Homo sapiens: one gene and its partners. The protein of the gene in region 2 interacts with the protein of the main gene of each other region in a pairwise test. Each region holds a gene or a part of one and is shown on either strand. Other genes may lie near its edges. The genes, in order: PHOSPHO2, TSEN15, AIF1L and ASB12.

What was found.
Region 1: the proteins of TSEN15 (region 2) and PHOSPHO2 interact in binary tests that used the Homo sapiens proteins (3 or more experiments, as listed by UniProt).
Region 3: the proteins of TSEN15 (region 2) and AIF1L interact in binary tests that used the Homo sapiens proteins (3 or more experiments, as listed by UniProt).
Region 4: the proteins of TSEN15 (region 2) and ASB12 interact in binary tests that used the Homo sapiens proteins (3 or more experiments, as listed by UniProt).

The regions. Positions count from the first base shown.
Region 1 is NC_000002.12:169,697,462-169,702,232, reverse strand, and holds the end of PHOSPHO2 (pyridoxal phosphate phosphatase PHOSPHO2), read right to left. Parts: 5' UTR 4,702-4,771; intron 4,369-4,701; exon of another isoform or gene 4,251-4,368; intron 1,288-4,250; 5' UTR 1,262-1,287; coding exon 536-1,261; 3' UTR 525-535; downstream 1-524. UniProt on the Homo sapiens protein: Phosphatase that has high activity toward pyridoxal 5'-phosphate (PLP).
Region 2 is NC_000001.11:184,046,808-184,054,733, reverse strand, and holds the start of TSEN15 (tRNA-splicing endonuclease subunit Sen15), read right to left. Parts: upstream 3,005-7,926; 5' UTR 2,979-3,004; coding exon 2,844-2,978; intron 381-2,843; coding exon 299-380; intron 7-298; coding exon 1-6. UniProt on the Homo sapiens protein: Non-catalytic subunit of the tRNA-splicing endonuclease complex, a complex responsible for identification and cleavage of the splice sites in pre-tRNA. It cleaves pre-tRNA at the 5' and 3' splice sites to release the intron.
Region 3 is NC_000009.12:131,106,506-131,113,536, forward strand, and holds part of AIF1L (allograft inflammatory factor 1-like), read left to right. Parts: intron 1-5,091; coding exon 5,092-5,158; intron 5,159-7,031. UniProt on the Homo sapiens protein: Actin-binding protein that promotes actin bundling. May neither bind calcium nor depend on calcium for function.
Region 4 is NC_000023.11:64,227,587-64,234,818, reverse strand, and holds the start of ASB12 (ankyrin repeat and SOCS box protein 12), read left to right. Parts: upstream 1-4,211; 5' UTR 4,212-4,356; intron 4,357-7,232. UniProt on the Homo sapiens protein: Probable substrate-recognition component of a SCF-like ECS (Elongin-Cullin-SOCS-box protein) E3 ubiquitin-protein ligase complex which mediates the ubiquitination and subsequent proteasomal degradation of target proteins.

The DNA of each region.
Region 1 (4,771 bases), on a different chromosome or scaffold from region 2:
GAATAAAATATGCTTACTTGCTCCAGGAATAAATTAAAAAATATAAACTATCAACCACCTTTAGTGGAGACCACTAGCTGTACCTAACTCAATTCTGTACTTTTTTCCCCAACTTTTCCTGGGCACATGACTACCTGGAATGAAAGCTATATTTTCCATCCTTCCTTGCTATTTACAAGTAAGGCATTATGACTAAGTTTGGCCAGTGACATTTAAATAGAAGTGTTGGGTACAACTTCTGGGAAATTTCTTTAGACAGGGGATGTAACTTTCTCACTGCCCTCTTTCTTGCTGGCCAGAGTGCTGCTGTGAGGGCTAGAGCTTCACCAGCAACCTTGGATCATGGGTTGAATGCCAAGTGCTGAGGTTGGTAGACTAACACAGCAACCCTGAAATACTTACCTCTGGAATTCTTTCATGTGAGAGGAAAAAAAAATTCTCTCTCTTTTTTTTTTTTAAGCCTCTGGTATTTGGGGTTTTAGTTTTATGCTGCTGAACCTAATCTTAAGTGATACACTTTTCAATTGCTGACATATTAATCCTTTATTAGAAATTGTAAATGAGAAATTATATCAACACCTGAGGACCAAACTACAACAGAATATTCCATAGGCTCAAGATTTTGAGACATTCTGGAAAGAGTTTTCTGTAAGGTATATCCTTTCCGTGGCATGGCAACATCATCATTCTTTAAAAAGGTGACTGGACAGACATCATTTCCACCATCACCAATATAAACAATTTGTGTATAATTCACTCCCTGTTGTAACTGTTTATCTACAAATTCTATCAAAACTACCTTTTTGCAAAGATTCTTTGGGCATCTATTGCAAGAATGAGTATGATAATTTTCAACAGTGAGATGACCATTGCTATTAAAAGCTGCTGGATTTGTAAACACTTTATCAAATATGTCATGAAAACTGGCAGCTTCTAAAACCCAATCTATGAAGACCGAATTTGAATCTGAAATAATAATGCAGTCAAATTTATCCTTATTCTTTCTTATAAAGTTGAAGAGTTCCACCATCCCTGGAGTGAAAGGCAATGATGTCACTGCTCTTTTCATTTCATGTTCTCTTACACCCTTATCTCCCAAATACTTAAAGACTCTGCCCATAAATTCTGTCCAAAATCCTTTTCGATAAGAATCACGTAGTTCAATAGGAAGCTTTTTGTTGGGAGCACATTGTACAATCCAAGTGTCACTATTGTCATCTATGATTGTATTGTCAAAGTCAAAAACTAGCAAAATTTTCATGGTTCCAGAAATAGATTTGGATTACCCTGAAAAAGAAGAAATATTATTCCCTAAACAAACTCTGTTTACATATCTAGCTAAAATACTTATTTAATAAACATAACTAAATGTTAATCTGCTAAAGGGAGGAATATAAACAAAGTAATTAAGCACTTCAAGACCACTACCTAACCACTTTTCTCTAAGAAGCAAAGTTCGTATTTGAGTATTTTAAGTGGAAAACAAAATATATAAAAAGGACATTCATAGTATTATTGTGTTCCTGGAGGTGTGTTTCTTATAGAATTTATAAGAAAGAAAAAAAAGCATTTCTTACTATCATTAAATTATCAATCAAACCACACTTATTTTATTAGATTAAAATATTTACAATCCTCATATTAAATAACAGATCATGTATAAAGGACTCTCTGTGTACTAACCAAAATTCTGAACAAATTTAACATAACATGAAATCTTGGAAGATGTAAAATAACTTTTTAAGAAAAGGTATTTAGTAACAAAAACAAGCAATGGGGAAAGGATTCCCTATTTAATAAATGGTGCTGGGATAACTGGCTAGCCATATGCAGAAAACAAACTGGACCCCTTCCTTAACACCATATACAAAAATCAACTCAAGGTGGATTAAAGACTTAAGTGTAAAACCCAACACTATAAAAAACCTAGAAGAAAATCTAGGCAATACAATTCAGGACACAGCAAAGGCAAAGGTTTCATGACAAAGATGCCAAAAGCAAATGCAACAACAGCAAAAATTGACAAATGGTATCTAATTAAACTAAAGAGCTTCTGCACAGCAAAAGAAACTATCAACAGAGTAAACAGACAACTTAGAGAATGGGAGAAAATTTTTGCAATTTATCCATCTGACAAAGGTCTAATATCCAGCAACTATTATAAAGTTGAAAAGTTCCACCATCCCTGAAGTGAAAGGCATCGATGTCACTGCTCTTTTCATTTTATCTTCTCTTACACCTTTAGCTCCCAAATAGTTAAAGACTCTGCCCATAAAATCTGTCCAAAATCCTTTTTGATAAGAATCATGTAGTTCCTTGATAAGGAACTTAAACAAATTTACAAGAAAAAACAAACAGCCCCATTAAGAAGTGGGCAAAGACACAAACAGACAATTCTGGAAAGAAGACAATACATGTGCCCAAGAAATATATGAAAAAAAAGCTCAACATCACTGATCATTAGAGAAATGCAAACTAAAGCCACAACGAGATACCATCTTATACTAGTCAGAATGGCTATTATTAAAAAGCCAAAAAATAACAGATGCTGGCAAGGTTGTGGAGAAAAAGGAACACTTTTACACTGTTGGTAGGAGTGTAAATTAAATTAGTTCAACCATCGTGGAAGACAGTGTGGTGATTCCTCAAAGACGTAGAGGCAGAAATACCACTTGACCCAGTAATCCCATTACTGGGTATATACCCAAAGGAATGTAAATCATTCTATTATAAAGATACATGCAAGCGTATGTTCACTGCAGCACTGTTCACAATAGCAAAGACATGGGATCAACCTAAATGCCCATCAATGACAGACTGGATAAAGAAAATGAGGTACTTATACACCATGGAATATTATGCAGCTATAAAAAGGAATGAGATGATGTCCTTTACAGGGACATGGATGGATCTGGAAGCCATTATCCTCAGCAAACTAACACAGGAACAACAACAAGAAAAACCAAACACCATGTGTTCTCACTTATAAGTGGGAGCTGAATCATGAGAACACGTGGAAGGGAATAACATACCCTGGGACCTGTCAGAGGGTGGGGGTGGGAGGAGGCAGAGCATCAGGAAAACAGCTAGTGGATGCTGGGCTCAATACCTAGGTGATGTGATGATCTGTGCAGCAAACCATCAGGGCACACACTTACCTATGTAACAAATCTACACATCCTGCACATGTACCCCTGAACTTAAAAGGTGGAAATCAAAAAAATTAAAAAAGTATTTAGCTTAAAATCAATTTCTAAATATCAATATTATAAGTAAATGATTGCTGACACTCTATATGATATTCTAAACAAATTACCTGAGAACTGGAGGCCAATTTAATTCTTCCAAACTAGAAGTAACTTGGTTAAGAGTTTTCACATGTTTATTTATAGCTGCTCTAGATAGTTTAGCTCTGGGGTGCCAAATAATTTGAATACACCTGAGTAATCATACTGTTTGTGGTGTGACAATTACTTATGTCTCTGTTTTCATTAGAATATAATGAAGGTGATTAATTATAAATCTCAAGAGAAAAGGAAAGAATAAGCTGGTCAACTGATGGTAAGAATAAACATTATTTATAAAAAATAACTATATAGAATATCCAGAAAAGGATATAATTAATGTGTGTAAACAGATAATAATAATAATTTTGAGAGTCATTATATGTCAGGCACTGACCTAAAAACTTTGCAATATCATACCATTTAATTGTCACAACCCTATTAAGTAGGAATCATTATTATCCTCATCTTAAAGATATATAAGCTGGATCTTGAAGTGGTTAGGTGTTAGTAAAGTGCCAGAGCTGGAATCTTAGGTTGATTTGATTCCAGACTTCATGCTTTTAAGTACCAAATTCTAGTGTTAAAAAATAGAATATTTAATGACTACTCATTAGTTTAAAAATATAACACTAAGTAGGTAATTTTGGCAGAAAGATATTTAATTACATAAAAACATTCATTACTTTCAAAGTACACACTAACCATAACACCACATCTGTGATACTCTTTATAACCATTTTGAGGTTTTTACAAGAAATCCTAAAAAGGCAAAGAACCACAGCAATAAGAAAAAGATCAATTAAAAATGAAAAACATGGCATTTAACCACACATATTCTCCAGTTTATAACAGTAGACACCCAGTAGTGAAGACAGAATAGAGCTCTTGACTCACATAAGACTAAGTATTCTGTGTCTCTTAATTTAGAATATCTAGAGAATAATTAACCTATAGGGGTATCACCTGTTGTGTGAATGTGGCTGGTACATAGTTTTTGTTATTCTGGATCCTTGTATCACTAAATGCCTAATCCAGATGCTTCTGACTGGTTCCCTGAAATTTAAATGCAGAATTCACTTTCCTACAGAAACAATGTAATAAATAATAAGGCATAATTGACAATCACAGTAGTACTGTAACTAGGCACATTTTAAATTAAATATGCTTTTTGAGAATTCTGAATTTATAATTAAAACAAATTTCAAATGTAACTCACTGTTGTTTGAAAACTGCCTCAAACCTAAACTTAATTAGCCACAAATTACTGAAATTCCTGAATTATTAGCCTCAAAATAGCATGAGACTGAGGTAACATAGTTCCCCTGCTGATCTGAAAGTGCACTTTTAAAATTTTCCCATCTTTTTCTGTTAGTATTTTCTCACCACTCAACATAAACCTTTAAAAAATACTTACCCAACTTAGTATTTCCAAGACAATCTTACTTCAGCATTGGGATTAGGATAAACAATCATGACAATCTTCA
Region 2 (7,926 bases):
TTTTGCCTGAAAGAGCATCATTGAATGGACAATAATGTTTATTAAATACAAAAAATAAAAACTCCAAACTTCTACCTAATACTCAGCTGAGCAAATATCACTCGTAACACTACCTCCTGTCTTTGCTTTTCTAGTAGCTTCTGTTACTCAGTAATTCCCAATGTAAATAAATAAATTGCAAAATTAACAGCAAATGCATAAAAGATTGCTTATTATGTTAAGAATGCTATATCCCAATCCAACCCCCCAAATCTCTACCACAGTCCCAATAACAAAACAATATAAACAAACAACTTACTTTCCATGAGGTCCAGGTAAACCAAGAACGCTACATAAACTTGGGTGGCATCTCCTATATCTAATTCCATCATTTCTAGATACTGAAAATTAAAATATAATTGTCAAATTGAGAAGAAAAAATTATTTAATATTTTCTTCCAATCATCAAGTGGTCATCAAGCATATATAATCTATAAAATTCTTCTAGGTATAGTGGAAGTTAAAAGGCAATATAAGATCTTATCTCTGTCTCTAAAGAACTTGCAATTGTTAAATACATGCACACTTAAAATTGTTAGGCAAATAACAATATATGACTGTAAGTGATTAAAAACCATGTAAATGGAATAAAAAACATGACACAGCAGGTCAGAAGAGCTCTACTCAGAGGGACTGGTGAAAGATTTATAGCAGAGGTGGGATGGGATACAAGTTGAGCACTGAAGAACATTATGATTTAAGTAAGTGGAGAAGTAGAGTAATACTGCAGGTAATTACACAAAGGTGGGATTAAGCCACATACATTCAAGGGCCTGTAAAGAAACCTATCTGCCAGCAATAGAGAAACCTTTTTAATAAAACTTGTGATGGGACATGTTAGTGGGTACTGTGTATTTCCCTAGCCTCTTATTTGTATATGGAGAGAATCTGCTAGAGTATCAGTCCTAGCCTCTCTACCCACTCTTTCTCACTTTAAGAGTAGATTTTTTAAAAGGAATTGACAAGGAACTAGAGAAAGCTGCTTCTTTCAGACTACTGGTCAGCATAAGGGGAATACTTTTCAGGGGCCTACACCTGCAGGAGAATTCTGAGGCTGCCCAGCTATGCCAGCGACTAGGTGGATATGCAGGGCTAATGCTGAGTTGAATTATTAGCAGACCTGCATGGGGACAGGTCTAAAGTCACATTCTCCCATCAGCTTCACTGTAACTGTACAGGTTCAGGAGGACAGGGGTTAATTAGTTGTCGACTTCAAACATGTTTTGAAAATAACACCCAAAACATAATTTTGAGCCAGGTTACAAGGCTTTGGTGGTCAAGCTAAACATGTGATTTTATCAGTATGGAAACACTGAGGATTTCTAAGCAGGAGAATAATAAAATAAAAGTGTGTTTGGGGATAATAAATCTGGTACCATTTTACTGGATGAAACTACATAATTTTTAAATTAACAGAAAGGTGAAATTGGAAAAACAAATACCCCCTATTATTTTATTACTTGTTCTTTTTCTTTTAAAAATTAATTTGATCCTTCAAGAAGAGAAATCAAAAGGGGAGATTTGATGGTCAAGGTGTATACAGCCATTAACTTGAAAAAGAAAACAATCTACAAGTATATAAACTGAATAACACCACCAAATCTAGATAAAGTCTTAAAAAGTTGTTACTGGTGTTTCGCTTATTAAGTACTTATATAGTGCTTTCTGTATGTTGAATGGCTTACAAATATTCATTAATTTAATCCTGTAACAACCGTATAAGTAAGTATGGACTATTAATATCCCCATTTTTCAGGTGAGGAAACTAAGGCATAATAAGATCAAGCAACTTGTCCCAAATCACAAGGTTGATAAGTGACAGAATCAGGATTTAAACTGAGTCTGATTTTGAGTTCATGCGCCTAACCAATATGCTGCCTCTCCATGCTATTGTTTCCCTAAAAGGGCACTAAATAATATTTCCATGCTATTGTTTCTTTTTCTCACCTTTTGGGAGGATGAAGGGGACAGAGTAGGAAGATAAAATTAAGCAAGAGAAGCTGAAAAAGGTTAACTCTTCAAACTTATACCTTCAAATTTTTTCTTGGCTGTTTTTAGATGATTATGAATTATTGCTCTCTAGCAGAAGAGTGCAATTCTGTTAAAGTACCGTAGAGACTAGTTTTTGAGATTCTTACAAAACCCACATCTCCATTCACTGTCTATTCACTGCTTGGAACCGTACTTGTACAAGGCAGTAATGTCTCAAGCAGAAGTAAGCAGAGGACTATCTTGATCTCGCCTGCTGCTAATCTAGAAAAATACACGCAAAATGTGAGTAGCTCTGCTTTGAGCAAGAACCTATTCAAACTTTCGAAGAAATCTGAAATATTAGGAATCTGCACCTTTTCAAAATAAAGATGCATTCTGGGCCCAAGGCTAAGTGTAAACGTGACTGTGCTTAAATCTTTATCACTATGGACCCCTAGATCTTATCCATCGCCCACAAATTGTCTTGCATGGTTACCGTGAGGATTAAATAAATTTATCCCCCAAAGGGGATTTACCTAGACAGCAAAACTAGTGGAGCGCTTATTAGGGATCTCCGGCTTGAGAGGGGCGGAGTTACTGTCTGGCTCTCAGTTCCAAAATGGCTTTGGCTGGGGGATTGAGATAGTGCAACTTGTTTAAACAAACAAAACCGATGCTGCCTGAGGCTGGCAGTTGTGCACACCGGTCCCCCTCGGTGAGGGTGGCGCGCGTCCTCAGTCTCCCACTGAGGAAGAAAGAAAGAGAGCTGCCTGGGAGTGTTCTGCCTGGGTTAGGGGCCTGGACGGCGCCCTGCTCCTCTCGCGCCTCCTGACCTTAGGGTGAGTGCCCATCCAGGCGTCCTCAGGGGCCCACGAAGGAGCTCCACCGCCGTCGCCAAAGCCGCGAACACCGCCCGGACCCAGGCCGCTGCAGCCGGGGGTCGGCTCGGAATCGCCGCGCTCCTCCATGCCGGCCGGTGCGGCGCTCCCGTGGTGCACCACGACCCGCGCCCGGCCAGAAGCAGCGGCGCGCGCGCCTGTGGGTTCCGCTTCCCCGAGGCTCGCAGCTGCAGTGCGAGAGGGCTCAGAAACTGGGAGGAAAGTTGCATCAGCCCCTCCTTCTGACCAAGGTAGCTAGAACCTGCGCGAACGCTCTCTAGTTTCGCTCTGCGTTTATTCAAATCTGAGCAAATTCTAACGTGAAAAATATTAAAGAGTAGCCTGCGCCCTGAAGCTCTTAATCCTCTTTAAGTCAGTGCTGCCGATAACTCTCTGAGAAAGTTGGGGGATACATACGTCCTCTTTGCCTTCAGCAGTGGGGTCCTGGTTTCTGATTGCTGGGGACGGGAAAGGCCTTACTCAGTGCCCTGACATAGAACTTTAAAGTAGAACCATACTTTCAGGGTGGACCCACGTTTCAGGATTAGAGGAAACACGAGTTGCTGAACGAGTGTTCAGAAAGGTAGGATACAAACTAGCATAAGCATGTGATCTGGAAGCCAAGGATGAGGAGTTTCAAACAGGCAGAGTAGCACATTTTAAGTATTTTTTAATTTACTGTGAGTGAAATGGGAAGCTATTGGAGGCTCCTGGACGTTTTCATAGGATCACTCTGACTGATATGTTGAGGATAGACTGGAGGGAGCAAGGACACAAACAGAGACTGGTTAGGAGGCTATCGCATTGACCAGGACAAGGGTGACTCAAAATCCAAAGTCCCAGGCAGGACATAACTTCTGTTTTCAACCATGATAGACTAAGACCCTAGTGGACCATCCCCCAGCAGAAAACAATTTGGACACAATGCAAAAAGCTGAATATACTGGAATGTGAATAGTGGACTGGTAGGAAGGGCAAGCTTGCTTGAAGATCAGGAACTACACTTGGACACAATACAAAAAGCTGAATATACTGGAATGTGAACAGCAGACTGGTAGGAAGGGCAAGCTTGCTTGAAGATCAAGAACTCCACAAGAAAATTCTCCTCTCTTTGGCATTTAGCTTGGGGCAAAGTGCAGTCCAGAAGTCAGGCTCAGCAGTACCAGGGATGCATGTATAAAACTTATCAGTTATTCTTGTCTGGGGAAGCAGAAAAGTGAAGACAGAAAATTTTGAATTCTGAAGAGATTAAGAAATCCCAAGGAAGGAGTCAGAGAGTGGATCCCCAAACTGTCAACCCACATCTCTGAGAGATCCTGAACCACCCAAAACAGAATCACAGCAGCTCAGTTAAAAACAAAAGATCTGAACTGAGACCAGAGCTGTCTCCAAAAGGGAGAGAGTTTTCAGTTAAAATCTAGCCGGGAAAATTACCTACTAATACAAAGGAAATAACACTCATCAGAGAAGAATAATAGAATCCAGACTCTCCACTTAACACTCACAAAGTCCAGAGTACTATCCAAAACTATCTGACATATGAAATTCAAGGAAATGGATCGCATACTCTAGAGATCAACCCTGAGATGAATCAGATATTGAAACTGACAGATAAGGATTTTAAAGTGACTATTATAACTATCCTCAATGAAGTAAAACATGTTTTCAATGAATGAAAATCTCAGGAGACAAATAGAAAATCTCAGCAAAGAAAAAGAAAAAAAAAGATTTTTAAAACCAAATGGAAATTCTGAAAATTGAAAATTATAATTTTAGAAATAAAAAATTCACTGGGTGAATTTAACAGCCAAAAAAAATTACAAAAGAAAAAGTAGGGAACTTGAAGATAGAGCAATAGAAATTATTAAAAGTAAACAACAAAGAGAAAAATTATCTTTAAAAAGTGAGTAGACCAACAGAGATTTGCTACATGTCAGACAATCCAACATGCATGTAAACAACAGAAGTAGAAAAAAAAAGGGACAGAAAAAATTTTTGAAGAAAGAGTGGTGGCCAGAATTTCCCCAAATTTGATGAAAAACACATTTACTAGTACAAAATGCTAAATACATAGCAACTAAAATAAACACAAAGAAGTCTACATTGTAATAAAACTATTGAAAGTCAAAAAAATAAAGAGAAAAGCTTGAATGCATCAAAAGAAATAACACATCATACACAGGGAAAAGAAGGGCATCTATTATTGAATGAAATGTAAAGCCACACATGAAGATTCATATGTTGCCCTCAAATACATTACATTTGAATGAACCTTTGCCACCACAAAGCAGCTGCTAAGCCCGAAAGAAGAAAATGGCACTGAAATTAATTGGGTCATTGAAGCATGAAACACTGACACGAATTCAAGTGATTGGAAGTGAATAAATCTCTCTGACTCCTAAAGATCCAAATCAGTTCATATGATGGCATTTTTAAAAGCATTAAGAGTATTTTGATGCTAATCTGAGTAGAGGGAAACTTTTATAAATCAGTAAGGATATCCAATGGGATTAGGGACTATATGAACCAGCCTCAAACATCTGCAGGGGAAGAATTTCAGCTTATGTTCAAGAAAAAATAATTGGGGGTATGGAAAGAACCATAAACCAAAAAAGCAACAGATAAATGCCATCCTTTGGCAAATAGATTAAATACTGTTGCTTAGAAAAAGCATGATACATTCAAGAATGAGTATTACGTGCTTTTCAAAAGAGTTGAAGAATGAAAAGGGAGTGTCTGTTAGCTTCCCTGTTAATGTAAATTTTTAAATAGGTCTTGGTGATTGTGAATGGCTAAGAATGAACACAAAGGATTTGGGAACACTTAGACAACCCAGTATTTAAAGTACAGAATCAAAATACCTATTGTGACAATCTAGAGTGAAATCCACTAGAGAACAGAGGAGAGTTTCAGTGTCTGGTATCCTGGAGGATTTCTCATTTTGTAAATGCTTCAATAGTTCACTCTATTAGAGAACCAAAGTAGTGAGAAAAAAAAGCTAGATAAGAAACAACGAATGAAATCCCCCCTGAGTATATTGGATTTAATCAAATTCATTGTAATCTGGCACTTGCTGAACTCATTTCCCAATGATATCCTGAGCCAGATCATTTTATTCCTACAAAAATCTGTAATGTCTAGCCAGAGACATATTAATTCAGTAAGAGTCTCGAGGAAATGCGAACACTAAATTGTGATGTGAATCTCTAGTGTGGAAAGAAAATTTAAAAAAGAAGAAGAAAAGCTTTTACACAGTATTGTATGAGACAGTGATTCCAAGCTGAAAAATGTAGCCTAGCATTCTGGATCAGCTTTTCATTCATTGGTTGTAAGGAGGTTCACATATATCTTGTTCCTTTTTTTGTACACAAAACACACAATTTCCTATTCTCTGTGTTTCAAGAACAGAGAAAGATTCAAGAAAGAGAATGATTCAATATTGTAAAGATGGCAATTTCCTCCAAAGTTATTTACAGATTCTATCAATTCCAATTAAAATCCCAAAAAGTATTTTCTTAATACCTGATAAACTGATTCTGAAATGTGGGCATAAAGGGCCAAAAATAACCAAGACCCTTTTTGTGAACAAAAGGGAGAGAACTTACGAAGTTAAAGTTCTGAAATATAAATATCTTATAAAGATAAGGTTTTAAACAAAATTTAAATTCTTACAAAGATCTCTAATTACAAGTATGTGATATTGGCACATGGATAGGTAAAACCAATGAAGCAAAATAGGGAGCCAGGCAACAGACCCATACACATGTGGGCAGATGCAAGAAGGGAAGGAGAGAAGGGGTGATTGGCTACACGGTATAGGCAAACACTTTTAAATCTCTAGGAGAAAATATAAAAGAATATTTTATGACCCCAAGTTTAAGAGTGATTTCTTAAGACACAAAAAGCACAAACCATATGCTTCACTCATGTCCCTGTGAAGACACCACCAAACAGGCTTTGTGTGAGCAACAAGGCTGTTTATTCCACCTGGGTGCAGGTGGGCTGAGTCTGAAAATAGAGTCAGCGAAGGGAAATAGGGGTGGAGCCGTTTTATAGGATTTGGGTAGGTAAAGGAAAATTACAGTCAAAGGGGGTTGTTCTCTGGCGGGCAGGGGTCGGGGAGGGGGGGGTCACAAGGTGCTCAGTGGGGGAGCTTTTGAGCCAGGATGAGCCAGGAGAAGGAATTTCACAAGGTAATGTCATCAGTTAAGGCAGGAAGAGGCCATCTTCACTTCTTTTGTGATTCTTTAGTTATTTCAGGCCATCTGGATGTATATGTGCAGGTCACGGGGAATATGATGGCTTAGCTTGGGCTCAGAGGCCTGACAATATGGAAAAAATTTGGTAAATTTAACTGTATCTCAGTTAAGAATTTCCAACACTAAGAGAGTGGAAGGAAAATGACATCTGTAACACACAATTGAAAGAAAAGATACCCAGAATATATACAGAACTCCTAAAAATCAATTAGGAAACAAAACAAAACACTCCTTAGGTTAAAAAAAAGAAAGTAAACAGAAAAAAAGACATAAAAGGCCAGCAAACATAACTTGATGTTCAGCAACATTGATTGAGTGAGAAAATGTAAATTGAGGCAAGAAGATACCATAATACACCTATCAGATTAGCAACAAAAGCCAAGAGTTGGCAGAAAAGTAGACCAAAGGGAAGATGCACAAATCCTATGATCCAACAATTCTAATCCCAGGTATATATTCTAGAGCAATATTTTTAAATGAAGTGCCAGGACCTGTTAGTGGTTGTGAAATACACTAGTTATTTTAGTTATGTTAGTGGTTAGTGGGTTGAGTACAGTTTTCAAAAAGTAATTATTTAAAACACACATAGAGTTTCAATCAACAACTTGAATGAATCTCATAAAAACTAAAAACCTAATGTATAGTCAAAATGTTAGTTATAGAAGCGTATATAAGATATTTGATTTGTTTAAAATTCTAATATAGCAGCTGTATTTATAATAGCCCAGAAGTGGAAACAACCCAAATGTCCCTCAGCTGATGAAAATATAAAGTAGTAT
Region 3 (7,031 bases), on a different chromosome or scaffold from region 2:
GGCATGGTGGCTCACACCTATAATCCTAGCACTTTGGGAGGCCGAGGCAGGCAGATCACTTGAGCCCAGGAGTTTAAGACCAGCCTGGGCAACAGAGGGAGACCCCATCTCTACAAAAAATACAAACATTAGCTGGGTGTGGTGGCATACACCCGTAGTTCTAGCTGCTCTGGAGGGCTGAGGTGGGAGGATTGTTTGAGCCCAGGCAGGTCGAGGCTGCAGTGAGCTGTGATCGTGCCAACAAAGAATAAATAGGGTCGGCCGCATTGAGAAGGTGACATTCGGCCGCATTGAGAAGGTGACATTGAGGCTGGGTGTGGTGGCTCACGCCTGTGATGCCAGGAATTTGGGAGGCCGAGGCAGTCGGATCACCTGAGGTCAGGAATTTGAGACCGAACTGCTCCATATGGTGAAACCGCATCTCTACTAAAACAAAAATTAGCTGGACGTGTTGGTGCGCACCTGTAGTCCCAGCTACTGGGGAGGCTGAGGCAGGAGAATTGCTTGAACTCGGGAGGGGGAAGTTGCAGTGAGCTGAGATCGCGCCACTGCACTCCAGCCTGGCGACAGAGTGAGACTCCGTCCCAAAAAACAAAAATAAAACAAAACAAAAAAGACAAGGTGACATTGAGCAAAGGCTTGAAGTTGGTGAGGGAGAGAACCACGCAGATCTGTGGACTCCAGGCAGGGTGCACAGCTAGTGCAGGGTGCAGCCCAGGGCAATCTTCCCAACCACTGCTGCCGTTCATGCTGTGCACGTGGCCTTGCTCTTCATCCCTGCCTGGTTGGTCTGTGTCTGTCTGTGTGCAATTTGTCTCTAAGGCCAGGGACCATGTCCTTCCACTTGCACCCATCCACCTACAGAGTGGCCCAAGTAAAACTGGATCTCTAGGGCTGGTCGGTCCAGGCTGAGGCAGGATTTCTGGTCAACCAGACCCCAGGGGCTGGGACAGCCCCTCCAAATCTCTCCCCAGAGGTTCCCAGATGTTGGTGCTCTTGTGCCTCCCCAGGAAGGTTCTCTAGTTCTTGGTAAAGTGAAGGAAATGCAGGGTCACTGTGGTGAGTTGGACCTAGGCTGAATGGATTCCATTTAAACATTCAGAGATGGTGAACTTCCTACTTTTATGAAATGTTCTTTTCTGAACTCATGGCAACAGTCAATGGCCATTGTTTAAAAAGTCTTTACTTGGCAAAATAAAAAGTTGGCACTCGTATATTAGTGCGCCCCTCTGCCCCGCCTTTAAAAATGTTTCATGTCTGCGTGACCCCAAAGTCTGGGAATCACTGATCTAATATGTCCCTTCACTGGGCAGATATGGGATCTGGGACCCTGGGAGGTGCCTGGTTTGCTCACAGTCACAGACAAAAGTTAATTGTCCTCCTTTTGGGCAGAGGATGGGGTGAGGGAGCAGTGCCGAAGAGCTATGAGAGGGAGCCAAGAGGAAAGGAAGTCCTCGACAGAGCCAACTAGGAGGAGGGCGGCCTCCCAGGCTGCCGAAGAAGGATCCAGCGTCAGCTAAGTGGAGGCGGGGCCGTGCCCAGTGCATTGCAATGAGGCCTGGAGTGAGGCTGTGGCCAAGCCAGCAAGACCCCATAGGCCCTGGGACTGCCCTCTGCCCAGGTGCAGGAGGACACAGGTCCTGGAGTCAGATAGACCCAGGTTCGAAACCAACCTTCCTTAGCTGTCTGTGAACCTTTTTTTTTTTTTTTTTTTTTTTGAGATGGAGTCTGTGGCCCGGGCTGGAATGCAGTGGCACAATCTCGGCTCCCGGCAACCTCCACTTCCCAGGTGCAAGTGATTCTCCTGCCTCAGCCTCCCAAGTAGCTGGGATTACAGGCACACGCCCCCATGCCCGGCTAATTTTTGGACTTTTAGTAGAGACAGGGTTTCACCATGTTGGCCAGGCTGTTCTTGAGCTCCTGACCTCAAGGGATTTGCTCACCTCGGCCTCCCAAAGTGCTGGGATTACAGACGTGAGCCACTCACTGCGTTTGGCCTGTCTATGGACTTTAGATGTGGTATTTAACCCCTCTCATCCTCATGTTTTAACTTGTAAAATGGGAATAATAGTGGCTGTGAGGATTTAGTGAGATAGCACAGTGTCTGCTACAGCCAATGTTTTACCAAAAGCTACAGGACAGCCAGACCCCTCTCCCAACCCAGTGAGGGAAGCCCTGTTGCCAGGTAGGTTTCTCCTGTGGTCAAGGGGTGCTGAGTTAATGTGGAGAAATTTGAGCCATAGAAGAGGCCATATTCTGCCTCATACTCATAATCTTATCTGTTGCTCATTGAGAGCTGAACTATGAGCCCAGTGCCCAAGGAGTGGGTACTATTGAACCTATTTTAGAGCTAGTAAAAAGGGAGACTGAGATCCAAACCCAGATTGCTTTATAGTCAGTTAGTTCTTGTCATCCTCTATTCTGCTTGAAGCCTCTTAGGAGTTTGCAACAATAGACTAGGAAGGTAGTGAGTTCTCTGTCCTAAGAGATATGTAAGAACAGACTTGGCCATCATGTATTAGGAAGTAGGTCAAGTGATTAATGTGGGTGACATTGCACATCATTTTAAACACCAGCTTTCTGTAATTTCAGGATAAGGACCTTGTCATATTCACCATGGTCTCCTCTGCTCCCTTGATGCTAGCACAGTGAGTGCTGTGTGCACTGTGTCCCCCCAGAATGTTGAATGAGTGAATGAATGAATGAATGAATGAATGAAGGAGCAATGTCCATGTCCAGTGAGCTCAGTAATGAAGAATGGAAGGTCCACTGGCCGGGCTCAGTGGCTCACACCTGTAATCCCAGCACTTTGGGAGGTCGAGGTGGGCGGATCACATGAGGCCAGGAGTTCAAGACCAGCCTGGCCAACATGGTAAAATCCCGTCTCTACTAAAAATACAAAAATTAGCCGAGCATGGTGGCACACTCCTGTAGTCCCAGCTACTTGGGAGGCTGAGGCACAAGAATCATTTGAACCTGAGAGGCAGAGGTTGCAGTGAGCCAACATTGCGCCACTGGACTCCAGCCTGGGTGACAAGAGCGAGACTCCGTCTCAAAAAAACAAAAACAAAAACAAAAAAAGAATGGAAGCTCCAAAGAAGAGGGGTTATTTGCAGAGTTCGAGTGGTAGGAGGGGAACAGGCCCTGTGCTTCCCCATCTGAATACAGGTTCCAGGGCTGCTGAAAGATTAGCCGCAAGATACATAAGTTACCTGGCACTGTATCTGGCAGGTGTTCCCTCATTGGTCGCTTTTTGCTGTAAGGTCAGAGACCAGGCCAGATGAACACCTGCAATCTGCCCACCTTTAAAGAATGTAGGGGCTAAGGATGCAGGCTCCAAATGAGATGGAGCCGAGTTGAAGCTCTGGCTTATGAGCCTCAGTTTCCTCACCTGCAAAATGGGTATAATAATAGTAGCTACTGGCCGGGCGCCGTGGCTCACACCTGTAATCCCAGCACTTTGGGAGGCCGAGGCGGGCAGATCACTTGAGTCCAGGAGTTTGGGACCAGCCTGGGCAACAGAGTGAAACCCTGTCTCTACAAAAAATACAAAAATAAGCCAGCCGTGGTGTGGCGCCCATCTGTAGTCCCAGCTACTCAGGAGGCTGAGGTGGGAGGATCACTTGAGATCGGGAGGCGGAGGTTACAGTGAGCTGAGATTGCATCACTGCATTCCAGCCTGGATGACAGAGCAAGACCCTGTTTCAAAATAATAATAACAATAGCTCCCTCTTGGGACTCCTAGGAGATGTGAAGAGATCACATAGGTAAGGGCTTCACCCTGGAGGCCATTGTTAGTGTCCAATCCTCCCCACCCTGCCCATCTGGTCCTGAAAGGACTCATTTGAGTCTCTCCAAGCATCTGAAGGGAAGGCAGGCCAGAGATTAAAACCCCCATTTTACAGGTGAGGAAACAGGTGAGAGGGTAAGTGTACAGTCATTTTCCCGTTAGAGCAGAGACGACGAATTCACACTCTCACTGGATTTCTTTTTTCTTTTCTTTTTTTTTTTTTTTTAAGATGGAGTCTCTCTCTGTCTCCCAGGCTGGAGTACAGTGGCATGATCTCAGCTCACTGCAACCTCCACCTCCCAGGTTTAAGCTATTCTCCTGCCTCAGCCTCCCAAGTAGCTGGGATCACAGGTGCCCACCTCTATGCCCAACTAATTTTTGTATTTTTATAGAGACGGGGTTTCACTATGTTGGCCAGGCTGGTCTCGAGCCCCTGACCTCAGGTGATCGGCCCACCTTGGCCTCCCAAAATGCTGGGATTACAGGCGTGAACCGCCGCACCTGGCCTCACTGGATTTCTATACAAACTCAAGAAGCAGATCATGATTCTCATTTGGTAGATAAGGCAATAGAAGTGTGGGGAGGGCCGGGCGCGGTGGCTCACACCTGTAATCCCAGCACTTTGGGAGTCTGAGGCGGAGGGGTGGGAGCGGGGGGATCAACTGAGGTCAGGAGTTCGAGACCAGCCTGGCCAACATGGTGAAACCCCGTCTCTACTAAAAATACAAAAATTAGCTGGGCATGGTGGCAGGCGCCTGTAATCCCAGCTACTGGGGAGGCTGAGGCAGGAGAATCGCTTGAACCCAGGAGGTGGAGGTTGCAGTGAGCTGAGATCGCGCCATTGCACACCAGCCTGGGGGACAAGAGCAAGACTTCTTAAAAAAAAAAAAAAAAAAGTGCACGGAGGAATGAATGAGCTCAGGATCACATTCCTAAGAAGTTAATGATGGAACCAGGGGCTTGTCTTTGGAGCTCACAGCTTCTCGGATCTGAAGCTGGGGTGTCTTGGGGGAGGGGCACGGGTCCCAGCATTGGTAATGTAGCTGCTGGCTGGAGGGCTTAGTCACCCGTAGTGAACCCTCTGGGGCCTCCCCAAGCTGCTGGGCAAACTTCCTACCCACAGGGTGGCCAGTGCAGATCTGCCTCCAAGGGGCGACAGGAAGCCGGGGTGAACAAGGGACAAACTGGGTCTGGTCGCACCTGGTTACCCGATAGGAGGGAAGGCCCCCGGACAGTGGGCCCATGTGTGGGTGACTTCTGTCCCCAGTCCCTTGCTCAGCACTGTCCTCTCACCTCTGTAGGAGTTTCTGTGTGACCAGAAGTACAGTGATGAAGAGAACCTTCCAGAAAAGCTCACAGCCTTCAAAGGTAAGCTGGGGCGGGCTGCCCTGCATTTATTCCTGGGGGAGGTGGGCTGGCCCCTCATCCTTGCACACAGGACCCCTCAGCCCCACAGGACTAGGCTGTGGCCCTGTTTTGTCCAGAATGCCCTTCTTCCTGGAGAAGGCTTGGAGACAGGGACCCCCTGAGAGGTGGGGAGAGGCCCCTCCACCTGCCTCCCTGCCCCTGCGGGCCCCGTCACCCCTCGCCTGCAGCCCGGTCCTGGCCCTGCCCCTCTCTCTCCCCTCACTGCCCACGGGGCTCAGGCTGGTTCCCGTCCGCCGCTGCCCAGGCCCCGTCACTCCCGGGCCCCGCACACAATCAGCTCTTTGTGAGCAAGCCTTGCCTCTCCCCCTCCCCAGCAGAGCGTCTCAGGAGCCCCTGCGGAGAATGGACGTTTGTGTCACCGCAGTGGGGCAGGGGGGCAGAGTTTCTGCCCATTGAAACCCGGCAGCACGGGATGAAAAGAAAGCAGGGCCTGGGAGCCGGCGCGGGGAGAGGGGCAGCATAAAGGTCCCTCTGTTTGGGGCCCTGGCGCTTGGTTCCCAGCCAGCACCTCGAAAGGAGAGGAGCCGGGCACATAGGGGGCAGCGCAGACCCACCTTCCCTGCCAGGGGAGGCACTTAGGCGCAGGAGCCCTGGGCTGTCATGGAAAATATCCTGGAGGTTGCATTCCCCTCCAAAGTGTTTGCAGTGTGAGCATCCTCCCGGCTCCAGGGCAAAGAACTTGGCCAAGTGTTCCTCAAATCACTTCCAGTTGTCCTTAGGCTGGACATCTAGGGCTAATCATATTAATAACAGCTGGCATTTGTTGGACGTCGGCCTGTGTGAAGCACTTCTCGTGCGGCGTGGCGAGCTCCCCACATCACCCCAATCGGCCTGGAGGAAGATGGCGCACTTGTTAATGTGCAGATGGAGAAACTCGGGCTTGGAGGGCGGGGTTGTTGGCATGGGGACACATAGCTCGCCTAGGGCAGAGTTGGGACTTGAACTCATGTCGGTCTGGCTCCAAAGCCCCTGCTCTCAACTGTTACGCTATGATGCTTTTTACATGAAGAAGAGAGAAGGGAAATAGTAAAAGACACTCCTGACCCCACCCCATCCCAGCCACCTGTAGGAGAGCTGTGAAAAAGAGAGCAGTCTATTCCCTTCTGTCTGCATACCAGCGTGGCCACTCCCAGGGGTGGCTCTGGGAGGAGGCACGGGTCTCAGGGCTCTGGCACCCTTTCTACTTGTCTTCACTGGAATGTTGGGCCAGACAGGAAGTTACATCATTCACTCATTTGTTCTCCAAATGCGCACCTGTACATGTGCCAGGACCATTCCAGGCCAGGGGCACCATGGTGAACGTAAAAGGCAGCTCCCACCCGGGAGCCTGTGTTCTCGCTCGGGGGGCGGTGTGAGAGGTGGTGGGAGACTAAACAGAGAGCCGGGAAATACAAGGTTAGCAGACTGTGGTAGGTGCTTCAGTGAGAAATGAGGGAGGGAGGACAGGAGTGCTCAGCTGTGGGGAGGGGGTGCAATTTTGAAAGGGTGGGGAGGCCAGGCACGGTGGCTCACACCTGTAATCCCAGCACTTTGGGAGGCCGAGGTGGGTGGATCACCTGAGGTCGGGAGTCCAAGACCAGCCCGGCCAACATGGCGAAACCCCATCTCTATTAAAAATACAAAAATTAGCTGTATGTGGTGGTGGGTGCCTGTAATGCCAGCTACTCGGGAGGCTGAGACAGGAGGATTGCTTGAACCCAGGAGGCAGAGGTTGCAGTGAGCTGAGATCAAGCCACTGCACTCAAGCCTTGGTGACAGAATGAGACTCCATCTCAAAAAAAAAAAAAAAAAAAAAAAGCATAATGGTTAAGAA
Region 4 (7,232 bases), on a different chromosome or scaffold from region 2:
ACTTAGAAAAAACGGACCAATTTTTCAAAAACCACAAACTATCAAAACTTTAAAAGAGGTGAAATAGGTTATATGAATAATCCTATACCCATTAAAGAAATGCAGTTTATTATTTAAAGTTTTCGGAAAAAGAAATCTCTGGGTCCAGGCAGTTTCACTGGACAATTCTACCAAAAATGTAAAGAAGAATTCACACCAATTTTACACAATTTCTTCCAGAAATAGAAAAGGAGAGAACATTTCCCAACTCATTTTATGAGGTCATTATTACTCTGATACTAAAACCAAAGACAGAACAAAAAAAGAAAACTACAAACCAATATTTCTCATCAAGTCAGATACAAAATTCCTCACCAAAAGTATTAGCAAACTGAATCCCACAATGCATAAAAAAAGAGTTATATGCCATTACCAAATGCGGATCATTCCAAGAATGCAAGTCTGGTTCAACATTTGAAACTAACAAACATAATCCACCAGTCAAGAGATTAAAGAAAGCAAAATGAAATGATCACATCAGCTGATGGAGAAAAAAAAGCATTTAACAAAATTTAACATTCATTCCTGATAAACTCAGAAAACTATGAAGAGAATTTCATAAGCTTGATAAAGGGCATCTTTGAAACATGTACAATTAACATCATACCTAATTGTGAACGACTGAATGCTAATTCTCTAAGACTGGGAAAAGGCACACATGTCCACTCTCACAACTCTTATTCAACATAGTCTTGGATGTTCTGGCTATTGTATTAAGGCAAATAAAACAAATAAGGCATACAGATTGGAAAAGGAAAAATAAAATTGCCCTCATTTGCAGATGGCATGAATGGCTATGTAGAAAATCCCAATAAACTTACCAAAAAACAAAAACAAAAGTAAACAATCAACAACTACAAAATCTTTCCTGTGACTAAGGAGTTCAGTTAGGATACAAGATCAACACACACACAAAAAAACGCATTTCTTTTTTTAAAATTTAATTTAATTTTACTTTAAGTTCCAGGATACATGTGCAGAACATGCAGGTTTGTTACATGTGCCATGATGGTTTGCTGCACCTATCAACCCATTATCTAGGTTTGAAACCCCACAAGCATTAGATATTTGTCCTCATTCTCTCCCTCCCCTTGCCCCCTACCTCCCAGCAGGCCCCAGTGTGTGTTGTCCCCCTCCCCGTGTCCATATGTTCTCACTGTTCAACTCCCACTTATGAGTGAGAATCTGCAATGTTTGGTTTTCTGCTCCTGTGTTAGTTTGCTGAGGATTTGGCTTCGAGCTTCATCCATGTCCCTGCAAAGGACATGATCTCACTCTTTTTTATGGCTGCATAGTATTCCATGGTGTATATGTACCACATTTTATTTATCCAGTCTATCATTGATGGGCATCTGTGTTGGTTCCATGTCTTTTCTATTGCAAATAGTGCTGCAATAAACATACATGTGCATGTGAACCAATTGCATTTCTAAGAAGAAACAAACATATGGAACAAGAAGAACCAAATATATGGAAACCCAAATCAAAATCCAATGTCATTTGCACCACAGAAATTGAAATATTTAGGTATATTCTTAACAAAATATACAATCCATATGCTGAAAAATCAGAAATGCTGATAAAAGAAATCAAAGAAGACCTAAATAAATGTAAAAACATATCATGTGCATACACTGGAAGACTCAGTATAACAAAGCACTCTGATATATATAACCAAACTGATATATAGATTTAACACAATTTCTATCAAAATCTCAAAGAGGTTTTTTGTAGGCATAGACAAGCTGGTTCTAAAATTTATATAAAGAGGTGCAGATACTAAAATAGCTAAAACAATCTTGAAATGAAATAGTAAAGCTAAAGGAGTCAATCTACTCTACTATAAAACGACAATGATAAAGACCTGTACACAGATGTTCATAGCAGCTTTATTCATAGTAGACAGATAGTAAATAGAACCCACATGTCCTTCAATCGGTCAATAATTAAACAAATTATGCTACATACCTACTATAAATCACATTTAGCAATAAAAATAAACAAACTTGATACATACAGCAACTTGAATTAATTTCAAGGACATGCTGAGTGAAAAACCTAATTCCAAATGTTTATATCATGTATGGTTTCATTCATATAATTTTGAAATTATAGATATGAAGAACAGATTAGAGGTTTCCAGGGGTTAGGTACCAAGGTGGGAAGAATGGAAAGGAAGTAGGAAGGAAGTAGATATGGCTATAAAAGGCAATGTGAAATATCCTAATTGGGATAGAACTATTCTGTATATTGTCTAAGGTGGTATACACAAGCTACATGTAATAAAATTGTATAGAATTAAATGTACGCACACAGACACAAAAAAGTACAAGTAAACCTGGGGAGATTTAAATAAGATAAGTGGATTGTATCAATGCCAATGTCATACTTGAGATATTGTACTATAGTATTGCAGGATGTTAGCATTGGGAGAAACTCAGTAAAGTGTACTTGGAATCTGTATTAATTCCACAACCACATGTGAATTACAATTATCTCAACAAAAACTTACATTAAAAAATCCTGCAAATCTTTTTTTCAAGAATAACACCTTACTCTGTCATCTTTAGCATCATAATAGCTTATTTGTTGACTGCTAATTGGGCTTGCATGAGGCCTCAGACAAAGTCCCCTGGCTCAAGCTAAGCTGAAACTGGTATGCTTTTTGATGTTTCTGATCTTCAGAGTCACTGATCACACTAGGACATTCCCACATTTTCCAGAGGAGTTATCTGGTCTTCTGTGAGCTCCCTGGCACTATCAATGTGCAAGCAGATTGCTTGACCACTTCATGAGTGAGGTAGACAAGACTGGGGAGGGAACTAAATAGATAACAGATTGAAAGAAATAGTTGAAGGAGCTGGGGCTGTTTTCCCTGAAACAAGGTGACATGGAGGATATAATATCTGGGTTCAGATCCCTAGAGGGCTGTTTTGGGGCAGAAAAAGTGAGAGCTGAGTTTTTGACAAAGTTTCCAGTGCTGGACACATTAAAGTAATGGTGATGCTTTAGGGTGAGGATAGTGGGAGGTTGTGGGCATTTTCTTCAGGCTGAGCCTGGTGGGTCAGTGGACTGGGAAGGTCTTTATAAATGACCAAGGCCTTCTTAAGCTTTAGAAAAGCTGAGTGAGAACACATTCTGTTATGGAGGCTTCTCCTTCCTACCTTCCTCCTCACTCTGAGCAGTGAAGGAAGGGGAGGGGCAACGAGTTGGAGGATATGCAGAGAGGCTCAGTTCAGAAGAGAAAAAAGAAGAGATTCCTCAGGGATATAGAACTAGAAATACCATTTGACCCAGCAATCCCATTACTGGGTATATACCCAAAGGATTATAAATCATGCAGCTGTAAAGACACATGCACACGTATGTTTACTGCAGCACTGTTCACAATAGCAAAGACTTGGAACCAAGCCAAATGTCCAACAATGATAGACTGGATTAAGAAAATGTGGCACATATACACCATGGAATACTACGCAGCCATAAAAAATGATGAGTTCATGTCCTTTGTAGGGACATGGATGAAGCTGGAAACCATCATTCTCAGCAAACTATCGCAAGGACAAAAAACCAAACACTGCATGTTCTCACTCATAGGTGGGAATTGAACAATGAGAACACATGGACACAGGAAGGGGAACATCACACACCGGGGCCTGTTGTGGGGTGGGGGGAGGTGGGAGGGATAGCATTTGGAGATATACCTAATGTTAAATGACGAGTTACTGGGTGCAGCATACCAACATGGCACATGTATACATATGTAACTAACCTGCACGTTGTGCACATGTACCCTAAAACTTAAAGTATAATTAGAAAAAAAAAAAAGAGAAAAAAAAAGTGTGCTAGGCTGAGGCTGGACCTTCTCAGTGCCCCCTGGTGGAGGTGTGGGAACAACCGCAGCTCAGGGGCCTCACCCTGTCTCCCATTTGAGTGGCAGGGAGGGATATAGGAGGATAGGCTGGGAGCAGGAACCCTAGCCTCACCAGGCACCTGTCTATCTGTCAGTCAGTCCTTCCAGGACTTCCCCATGGGAGAGCCCCTCCTCTTACTGAAATCGCTCCCAGAATGGCACTGGTAAGATAACACGGCCTGGGAAGAGGGGGTGGAGGGTAGCCTAAAATTAGCCCCTTGGACCAAGACTAGGGACTGACTCCTAGTCTTTCAACGGCATTGTTAACAGTGGGAAACGAGAGCCCCAGCTGCTCCAGGTTGGGGCCGTGGGGGCTCCCTAAGGAGGGGACACCAGGGCCCCAATGTTTCACAGAGGGGCGGGGGGCAGCGACCCTGGGCAGCATGGCCTCAGGCTGAAGCCCGGTGAGTACCTGGAGCCTAGGACCGGTTTGAGAAGAGTGACCACTGCGGGCCCACAGACCTGTGATCACCCACTTCCCGTTGTAGGCTGTTTCCGCTGGGTCTGGGACGTGGTGGGAGTTGGGGGAGGCGCTTGGAAGGTCGTTAGGGCAACCCACCAGGAGGAGGGAGGAGGGATATAATGCCAGCTCCCTGCCTTGTGTGTCCCAAGAGGATATGTCTGCCTAGGACCTCGGGTCTAAACAGACCTGCTTCTTGAGAGCAATTGTGATTATACACTACAGGAAGTGTGGAGATTTGTCTTTGTGTCCCTGTGTGGTGTTGGCTAGTCTGTGTGTGTGGGTGCCTTAGAGTGGGTTTAAGGGCATAAGGGCAGAACTCGTAAGGGTGAGAGAAGGAAGATGAGGCTTAAAAACGTTCTGCTAATGCCTGAAGGAATGCTCTAGGATGCACGGAAACCAACCACTTTCCTGTGGGAGTACTTAACCTGGATTGACAGACACCAAGAGGGCCTTAGATAGAATTCAAGGGGTCCAGAAACTTGGATGAATAGACAATTACCTTTTTTCCCCCTAACCTCTAACTAAAATGTACTATTTCCTTCAAGGATGAATGCAGGTATCAAATGGCAGTAGCATAACCAGTTCATGTAATTTGGTTACCAGAAGAAACCACAGATATTTCATATCATATTACAGTTGTGGCAGAGATCTTGAAATGTCATTTATTACCACTTAGAAATTATTACTAGACCTTTTTATTTAATGTGTTACTAAAGAACATCTCTTACTATATCATGCATTTAAAAATATTTTGACAGTCACATTTTAATATAATTGGTTTCCTTTAATTTTATGTGTTTTATGTAGCAAAAACCATTCTGAAAGGTGTTTACAGACTTTGCTAGTTTGTCACAGGAACCAATATCACAAAAAAAAAGGTTTAAAACTCCTACATCTTTAGGATCAGGAAGGAGCTACGTGCACATAACAGGCACATAGTAACTCTTTGATTAATAAACTACAGCAAAGTGAGGTAAGACAACAGGCTAGCTGGATTTCCTTGTCCTTATCTAATGGAGGCACGATTCACTCCAGTGCCACAGCCAGCTGGAGAGCATGGCTTGGTCTCCCTCTGGAGGCTCATTATATGAGCTCTGCTGTGGGCTCTTGGTATGAACCTTAGCAAGAACTTCAGCACTTCCCTCTGCCACTCCCTGCCAATTATCTGCCCAGATCCCAGTCGCCAAAATAAAATATTAAGGAGGGAATTCCTACCAGTTATCAGAATAAATTATTTGTAAAGGAACCTTCCATTACCGAAGACCCTGGAATTCAGCATGACACTCAAAAGCTGAAGATCCTGGGAGCTGCAATGTGACTGCTGGAGTCAAGGGAGGGGGGTATGTGTTTGTGTTTCATCTTGTAATAGAAAGAACAGGAGGAGGAGTAGAGAAACCTGGATTCTATTTCTGACTCTGCTTTTGCCTTGATGTAAGGTATATGGAAAACCCCTTACCCTCTCTGGACTCAGTTTCCTCCATCCAAAAAATGGGGATAATATTACCTATTTTGTTACATGAAATTGCTTTGAAAAGCACAGGATTATAAGTGTGTTCTGAGTTCTTGTTAATGAGACAACTAACAATAACAACCATGTGACCTTACCAAAGTCCCTGCTCTGCTCTGAACCTTGGTTTCCCCATCTGTAAATTGAAAAAATTAAATTAAATGATCTACAAGGTCCCTTGCAGCTCTGAGGTTCTAGAACATTAAGTAGGGAGCAATAGCCTTAGAAAATGGAGACATAAGTAACAATCATCATCATAGTAAAAATAGTTACTGAGAACTACTTTCAGGCACTATTCTAAGCACTTACTATGTACTAACTCATTTAATCCTAAGAACCCTCCAAGGCAGATACTATTGTTATTTTGTCTTTACAGATGAAGAAATGGGCACAGAGAGATTAAGTGACCTGCCCCAGGTCACACAGCTACTAAATGCTAGAGCTGGGGTAGAAGCAGAACTCCCATGTTTTGCCACTACCACATAAGGCCTCTTTATCTGCACTAGGGCAAACAAAGACCCATATAGAAGTTACAATACAGTGTGATGACTGCTATAGTGCTATAACACAGACTCTGCAGGAATTAACTTGGCAGAAGGAGTTGCATGTGGCAGAAAGAAACATGGTGTATATGGAGAGCCATCACTTTTTGTCTCTTGTCACTGGACCTCAGGATATAAGTCAAGGAGTAGTAGGAAGTGAGGCTGGAGAGATTGGCCAAGATTTATTCATGAAGGACCTCTGAGCTGGGCTAAAGTATTTGGGCTGTAGCTGGAAAGAAAGGGGAGCCATTAAGGTATTTAAAACAGAGGATTGGTAGAGATCAGATATGTATTTTTAAATTACCACTTTAGCAACAATGTGGAGAAAATATTGAAAAGAGAAACTACCTATGAGACCACTATAACTGCTGAGGCAAAAGGCAGTGGGGGCCTAGATGAAGCATAGTCAATGAGAATGGTCCCTGAAGAGCACAGATGGTCTGGAGAAGTCTTTAGTAGGTAAAATCCACAGGACTTGATGGGATTTTATGAGAGTGGGATAAAGAGGCAAGAGCATTGACAGGAGTCTTGGTTTTTGGTTTGGTTGACCAGGTAGATGGTGAGGAAATGATATATGGATCAAGTTTAGTCATGGTGGTAGTGGTGGTGATGTGATACTGCTGTCTTTGAAGTGCTTGAAGAAACTCAGTGGATACATGCCTGGAGCTAAAGAGAGAGCTGGGGGCTCGGATAGAGACGCTTAAAATAATCAGAATAAAGGTGAGAGCGACTGGAGAGAAGAGGTTGGAGAAGAGAACACAAATATTT